Regions from separate parts of the Homo sapiens genome. Here region 2 is reported to be linked to region 1. Evidence: microRNA targets listed by miRTarBase, many of them from high-throughput screens and not tested one by one. Region 1 holds a microRNA gene; the other region holds the end of a gene's coding sequence.
Evidence for each region. Region 1 holds the annotated microRNA hsa-miR-5591-3p (AUACCCAUAGCUUAGCUCCCA, at 1,202-1,222, shown strand). A microRNA usually pairs through its seed, bases 2 to 8, with sites in the 3' UTR of a target mRNA and lowers its output. Matches are read on the target gene's strand: a 7mer-m8 pairs with bases 2 to 8, a 7mer-A1 pairs with bases 2 to 7 and ends in A, and an 8mer does both.

Region 1 (3,422 bases):
AAAACTGAATTCTGGGGGGGTATGGACCCCTTCATTCCCCACTTCTCAGATAGAGAAAAGGTTTCATAGTGGCTATTGGGGTCCTTTTCGTTCCAGAATGATCTGGAAAACTCCATCTCGGTTTGAAATGTTCCCATTTGGAGGAAACCTGAATGGTCCAGAGGGTCCCAAGGCTGACTTGCAATTTAGATTCCACTTTATTGCAGATGTAGGGAGTACCTTAATGCGGGTCTAAGACTCAGGTAAAAATTTTCCATAATCACACCTACTAATGGATGAACCAACTCTAAGTTTTTGTTTTTGTTTTGTTTTGTTTTGAGACGGAGTTTTCGTTCTTGTTGCCCAGCCTGGAGTGCAGTGGCACAATCTTGGCTCACTGCAACCTCCGCCTCCCGGGTTCAAGCGGGAGCCTCAGCCTCCCGAGTCGCTGGGATTACAGGCAAGTGCCACCACGCCTGGGTAATTTTTTGTACTTTTAGTAGAGACGGGGTTTCTCCATGTTGGTCAGGCTGGTCTGGAACTCCCGACCCACAGCGCCCGGCCTCAAAACTAAGGTTTTTTTTGTTTTGTTTTGTTTTGTTTTGATTTTTTTTTTTTTTTTTTTTGAGACGGAGTCTTGCTCTGTCGCCCAGGCTGGAGTGCAGTGGCGCTATCTCGGCTCACTGCAAGCTCCGCCTCCCAGGTTCACGCCATTCTCCTGCCTCAGTCTCCCGTCAAAGCTGTTTTTAACAGCATTTGAAATAGAATGAGGATGTATTTTTTGGCTTGGCCATTTTTTTTTTTTTAAGACAGAGTCTCACTCTGTCACCCAGGCTGGCGTGCAGTGGCTCGATCTCAGCTCACTGCAACCTCCGCCTCCCGGATTCAAGCGATTCTCCCGCCTCAGCCTCCCGAGTAGCTGGGATTACAGGTGTGAGCCACTGCTCCTGGCCCTGGCTTGGCCATTTTTAAGCACGGTAATCATCACTTTAAATATCATCTCTAGGCCTGGCATGGTGGCTCATACCTGTAATCCCAGAGCCTATGAGTTTGAGACCAACCTGGGCAACATAGCAAGACCCCCTTCTCTATTTAAAGAAAAAAGAAATAATATCTATGTATTCTAAGTGAAGTAACTCAGGAATGGAAAACCAAATGCCATATGTTCTCTCATATAGTGGGAGCTAAGCTATGGGTATACTGAGCTTATGTATGCATCTGCATACCCATAGCTTAGCTCCCACTATATAAGAATGATACAATGGACTATATATACAGAATGATATATACCTACATACAGAAGGATATAATCAACTTTGGAGACTCAGAACAGGGAAGCTGGGAGAGGAGTAAGGGATAAAAAAACTGCATATTGGATACAATGTATACTCCTCTGGTGATGAGTACACTAAAATCTCAGACTTCACCGTTATACAATTCATCCGTGTAACCAAAAACCACTTGTACCCCAAAACTATTGAAATTTTAAAAATATTTTTAAAAAGAGAAATATTATGAACATTTACATTCCAAAAGGACATAAATAAATAAATATTATCTATACTCTTTACAACAATCTTGCCAGGTAACTATTATCCTCATCTTACAGTGTGATATTTTGAATATGCGTGATATTGCTCCCCTGTGTAAAATCCATTAGTGGCCCCCCCAAGCTTTGGGGATAAAGTCTCAATTTTTCACCAAGACCTTTGAGATACAGTTCCCAGCCTCCTTCCTGGCCACTCTCCCATCCTCTTGCACTTCATATTCGATCATAACACACTACTGCCAGTGTCTCAGTCTCTCCTTACTATTTCTCTCCACCCAGCCTCAACTATCCCACTCTGTCTAGCTCAAATGCCCTCTTTACTTCGTGATGGTCACTGCCTCCAAGTCATTCTTGCCCCTTTAGGATTTAAGTGCCCCTTCTGCTGGCTCCCATAAGATGGGCTTGTTTCTAGCATAGCACTCATACGACATGATACTTTTCCATCTCCCCAGCTAGACTGAGAGTTCTTTCAAAGGAGAGACAATTTTTAAATTTGCCTTTATGTTCTCAGCACCTAGCACAGAATATTTGTACATATTAGGTGTAAATGTTGGTTAAATGAATGGTTTAGGATTTCTGTCTTAAATACTGTAATCAAAAACTAATCTCAAGTTCAATCTTCATATTTCATTGCATTATTGCAAACTGTCGAAATATTACTGATATTAATCGGGTGGTATATTAGTCAGGACTTTTTTGGTGGCAAGTTACAGAAATCTAATTCAAATTGGCTAAAGCAAAAAGGGGCAATTTCCTGGCTCAGTAACCAGACCACAGGGATGAATGGGCTCAGTGACCAGGAAGGCCCTTTATTTCAGCCTCTCACGTCCATTTCTTCCTCGGGTTGTGTCATCTTCTCCTTTGTAGAGGAAAGATTTCTCTCTCCCAAGTTTAGTTTTTTCAATCCCAGAAATGTATTTGGCCTATGCAGCAAAGCCCCAAGGGTTCACATTAGTAAAGGCAGTAATGTCTGTTTTCATTCTATTTTTAAATCAATAAATACATGTAATAATTTAAATTTGTACATTTCCCTTTTAGAATGGAACATTTGAGAGTCTCTGAGTAAACATGCACAGAGGTTTGGGAAGGTGAATTTGCTCATGAGACAATAACTCATTCTGTTTATTACTCCACTAAATATTGCCAAAGCGGGGCAGAGTTGCTCCTGCCTGTAATCCTAGCACTTTGGGAAACCGAGGGAAGAAGATCCCTTGAGCCCAGGAGTTCAAGACTAACCTGAGCAACATAGTTTTGTAGAGACAAGACAAACCTTGTCTCTACAAAAAATAAAAAATCAGCTGAGAGTGGTGGCACATACCTGTAGTCCCAGCTACTTGGGAGGATGAGGTGGGAAGATCACTTAAGCCCGGGAGGTCAAGGCTGCAAGGAGCTATGATTGTGCCACTGCACTCCAGCCTGGGTGACACAGCAAAAACCTGTCTCAGGAAAAAAAAAAAATAAATAAAATAAAATAAAATAAAACAAAAAATACTGCCAGCTTTCATGACAGTTTTGACCATTTCATGACTTTAAAAATCTTTGTCTTTTACTAGTCACATTGGGTTAGGGGGAAAATGTTATCTTTCATAGATAAATACTGTTTACATAGTACAAAGATTTCTCAAACCTGGTCACTATTGACATTTGGGGTCAGATAATTCTTTGCTGTGGTAGGCTGTCCTGTGCAATGGAGGAGTTCAGCAGCATCTAAACTCTACTCACTAGATGACAGTAGCTCCCCCATTTTCAGTGTTGTGACAATCAAAAATGTCTCCAGACCTTGCCAAATGTCCCCAGGAAGTCAAAATTCCTCCCCCTCACTCCACCTTTGAAAACCACTGACTTATTCTATAGTAGACAACTGGTTAAAGACATGAAGCACAAAGAACAAGGA
Region 2 (3,422 bases), not on the chromosome of region 1:
AGTTTAGTTAGGGATCTCTCTTCTTGCACCTTCTCCTTCCCATACAAATCTTCCCAGAATTGTCCTGCTACAAAAATTACTTTTTCCTCTAAGTCAAACCTCCAGCTATCTCCAAAGCTGCTGTTTATTAATTTCACACTAAGGTGTGAGTTACTGGTAGGATTAAGTCTGGAGGGGTAATGAAGAGCTATTTACATTTTAAAAGTGAGATTCTTTTTCCTCAAAATTTTGCTAATTGATGTAAAGAGTGAGTATGATCCTTCCTTATATAGGTTACACTGTGCCCCAACCTTCTCTGGGGGCCACCAAGGATTCCTGACCCCTTACATTCCAGAAATCAAGGGTCAGCAACTGGGTGCCTCACTTGTGAAAAGCTGTTGACCTCTGGAAGGCAGCTTGTAAGGAAGCAAGTGTTAATTTTCAAAATGTGACTGGTCTTGATAGCAGCAACCTCACCCCATCGCGATGTCCCTTGGAATGTTTACTAGTCAAGGGGCATAGAAGTAATCTGTCATCACTAGTCAGTGGTGCAAGCCACTCATTCTTGTAACCTTGCCTTTCTCCCCTGGACCCAAAACAAAACATACCACCCCATCCCTTTCCTCTCACATTCAAATTTTCATGTGTTCAACATTTGTCAGGGCCTTCACCTTCAATGACATGGTCAACACACCAAGAAATTACATTTAACACATGAAACATGAACAGCAGGCCCATTTCTTTCTGCCATGTATTTGAGAGGTACAGAATTTGCGTTTGGGGTGTGCATGTGTGTGCTTATTCTTGGATCAATATTTTTAGACATTAAAATGATTACCCTCCAAAATCATAAAAGGGTTTAATAACATATTTTAATATAATTTTAAGTACTTTTTAATAAAATACAGATATATAATTATCAATGTATGCATGTCATTTAATTCAGCAATAAAAGGCTAGTCTCTGAAGTGACGTGGTGATTAATATTTACAGTAAAACCTAAAAAAAGCATTTGTACAATATTGCTAAAATTTTACCAGAAAAAAGATTAATAAAAAATTATACTCATATTGTGGTATCATCTGAAATGATCAACGGCAAGAAGGAAAATGCTCTTATTAATACATATGGGTATAGAGCATTACTTTCCATGTTTTTTCAAGATGGAAAACTCTCTGTTCTTGAATTATACACCAAGCACTATTGGCTGAGATGGACTCATTCTTAACACCTTTCCCCAAATCTTTGTCAAGCTATTAATGCCATACCCAAACATCTTACATAGATCCACCTACTGCAAATATTTCATGTCCCTTCATGCTAGTTTTAAATTTAAAAATTTAATACTAATTTGATGAACTGCTAAGGAATCCAAAAGGAAATTTGTTAATATGTATAAACAGAGTCACATCCTGTGCAAATTCAACAGTATATCTCCCTAAGTATCTAACAAATTGTGTTGTTTCAAAGTGAAACAGCAAATCAGGAGTTGTACCCTTTCCCCACCAAATCCAGGGATGAGTTAAAGCAACTCTTTTTAGCAATGAGAGAAAATCATGCTCTTTTGCTTAAGATACATGAAATGTAATGAATGGGTCAATGCACAGACATGTTATTTCGCTTTCTCCTCAGAAGGGGAATGTGCCTCATCATGTATTCTTAGCCTTTTTTATTTATCTCATACTGTGCTCTCAAAGTTACTTGTTTTTAACTCTTCAACCATGCATATATTATTTTAGGAATTAAAAAATTTAATACTGATTTTAATTTCTCCAGTTCTGACATTACAAATTCTGTTGAGGTTAAAAGTTTTATAGTTCCTTTATCATAATTAGTATCTTCCTTCTTAGTCCTCCAAGAGGGTCTTTATAGTAATGGGCTTTGGCCTTTGCACTATAGCTCCCAAAAGACAGATTGCTGGAGATAACCTACTGAAATTCCTCACCGTGTTATTTAACACCATACAGGCCTAGGAACTATCTGTTTTGGGAAAGACTCAGGCAGACGGACAAGGTTAAGAAGGGGAAAAGGGTTCAATGTGTAGGAATTACAAGATATAAATAAGTAGCATAAATGCATTTTTTTTACTTATATACTATCGGTCAGGAAGCTCAGAGCAAGATGGAAAAAATATTCTAAATTTAAAAACAAACTATACAAAAACATAAGGTATAGTTAACAATAGTATTACTCTTGATTTAAAAGATAGACATTTCTCATTGGAATCAATGAATTTGAGGTGGATTTATTTTCCTTTTGCCATTCCACTCATATCACATATTCCTCCCCTGGTGAAAATTGGAATTTAAAAATGTTTATAGAACATTCTTTAATGGTCTATTTGATATATAAAATAAGCAAAAAATCGAAAATACTGGAAATTTGTTCTCTACAGATGAATAAGAACCTCTTATGTGCCCAATGGAAAGTGTAAAAAAAAAAATCACAAGCCTCTCCTTTACCTTCCTTAAGAAAATAACAATTATTATGGGTTATGATTTTTTTATAGACCCAAGGTCATATAGTATGTGTGGTAAATAATAAGCAGGAATGAAAAAGCTGATCCTTCATGATTACAAATACCTCAGGACTAACACTAAGACTTCAACTGGCTTTTGTATTTTAGATTCTCACACTGTGTCCAAGAATAACAGAAATCACAAGACTCTACATGCTGGTTACTGCTGGTTATCAATACATCAAGTATGAAACCGTTTAGAGCATTTTTCTGATAAATTAAGTTATAAGTGTTCTTCTGGATAGTATAATTGCCAAGTTTTAAGTTTACCATCTTGTTTTTAAAAGAGTCTGAGAACTTTGCTTAAACATACTACACGCATGCCAATACTCCGTGCAACTGGATGAAACAGGGGAACAATAGGGGCCGTGATACTCCATGTGCTATGTATATACAGCATACATATATACCATAGATAATTACAATCTCACCATGATAAAGTCAAAAAACCCAGTGAGCCTTCATTTTCTATTATATGTACATTTTATAAACCACAGAGAGTTTCTTTCCACATAGCTTTTAAAAAAGAAAAAGAAAATATGTTAGACAGATCCAAATGTCATTTAACTTAAAGGCTTCATCAGACCATATGTGCAGATACTTGAGATGATGACAGAGTTAAGCTTCCTAGGGTCCTAGAGTCAAAGAAACTCTGCTGACCCCCACTGCTAAGCAGGTGCACTCCTTCCACAGGGGGCAACATCTGCCGATCCGTCATGGTCCCACTCGGTGAGGACCCCAAGAAACTTCCTTGGGAAGAAACAATTTTCTCAGGACTGGCAGCCAGTTTGGGGGATGTGGAGAAGTTATATCCATATAGTGCACAGGGGCTGTGTAATCTAAAAGTATTATAGGAACCCTGATGGGTCTGGTTAGTGGCGAAGGCATTGCTGGAGGGTGATGGCATGATATACTGGAGCTGGGG

Region 2: miRTarBase lists TBX18 as a target of hsa-miR-5591-3p. The part of its 3' UTR that is shown has no 7-base or 8-base seed match.

What each region holds. Positions count from the first base shown.
Region 1 is chr4:39,410,753-39,414,174 of GRCh38, forward strand. MIR5591 (microRNA 5591) reads left to right here and starts at 1,158; the gene lies at 1,158-1,222. The region is part of intron 1 of KLB (klotho beta); the gene reads left to right.
Region 2 is chr6:84,733,608-84,737,029 of GRCh38, forward strand. TBX18 (T-box transcription factor 18) reads right to left here. Exons shown (of 8, transcript NM_001080508.3): 8 at 1-3,422. The coding sequence ends at 3,078. Among named protein-coding and RNA genes, the nearest start is that of TBX18, 29 kb to the right of the region's middle.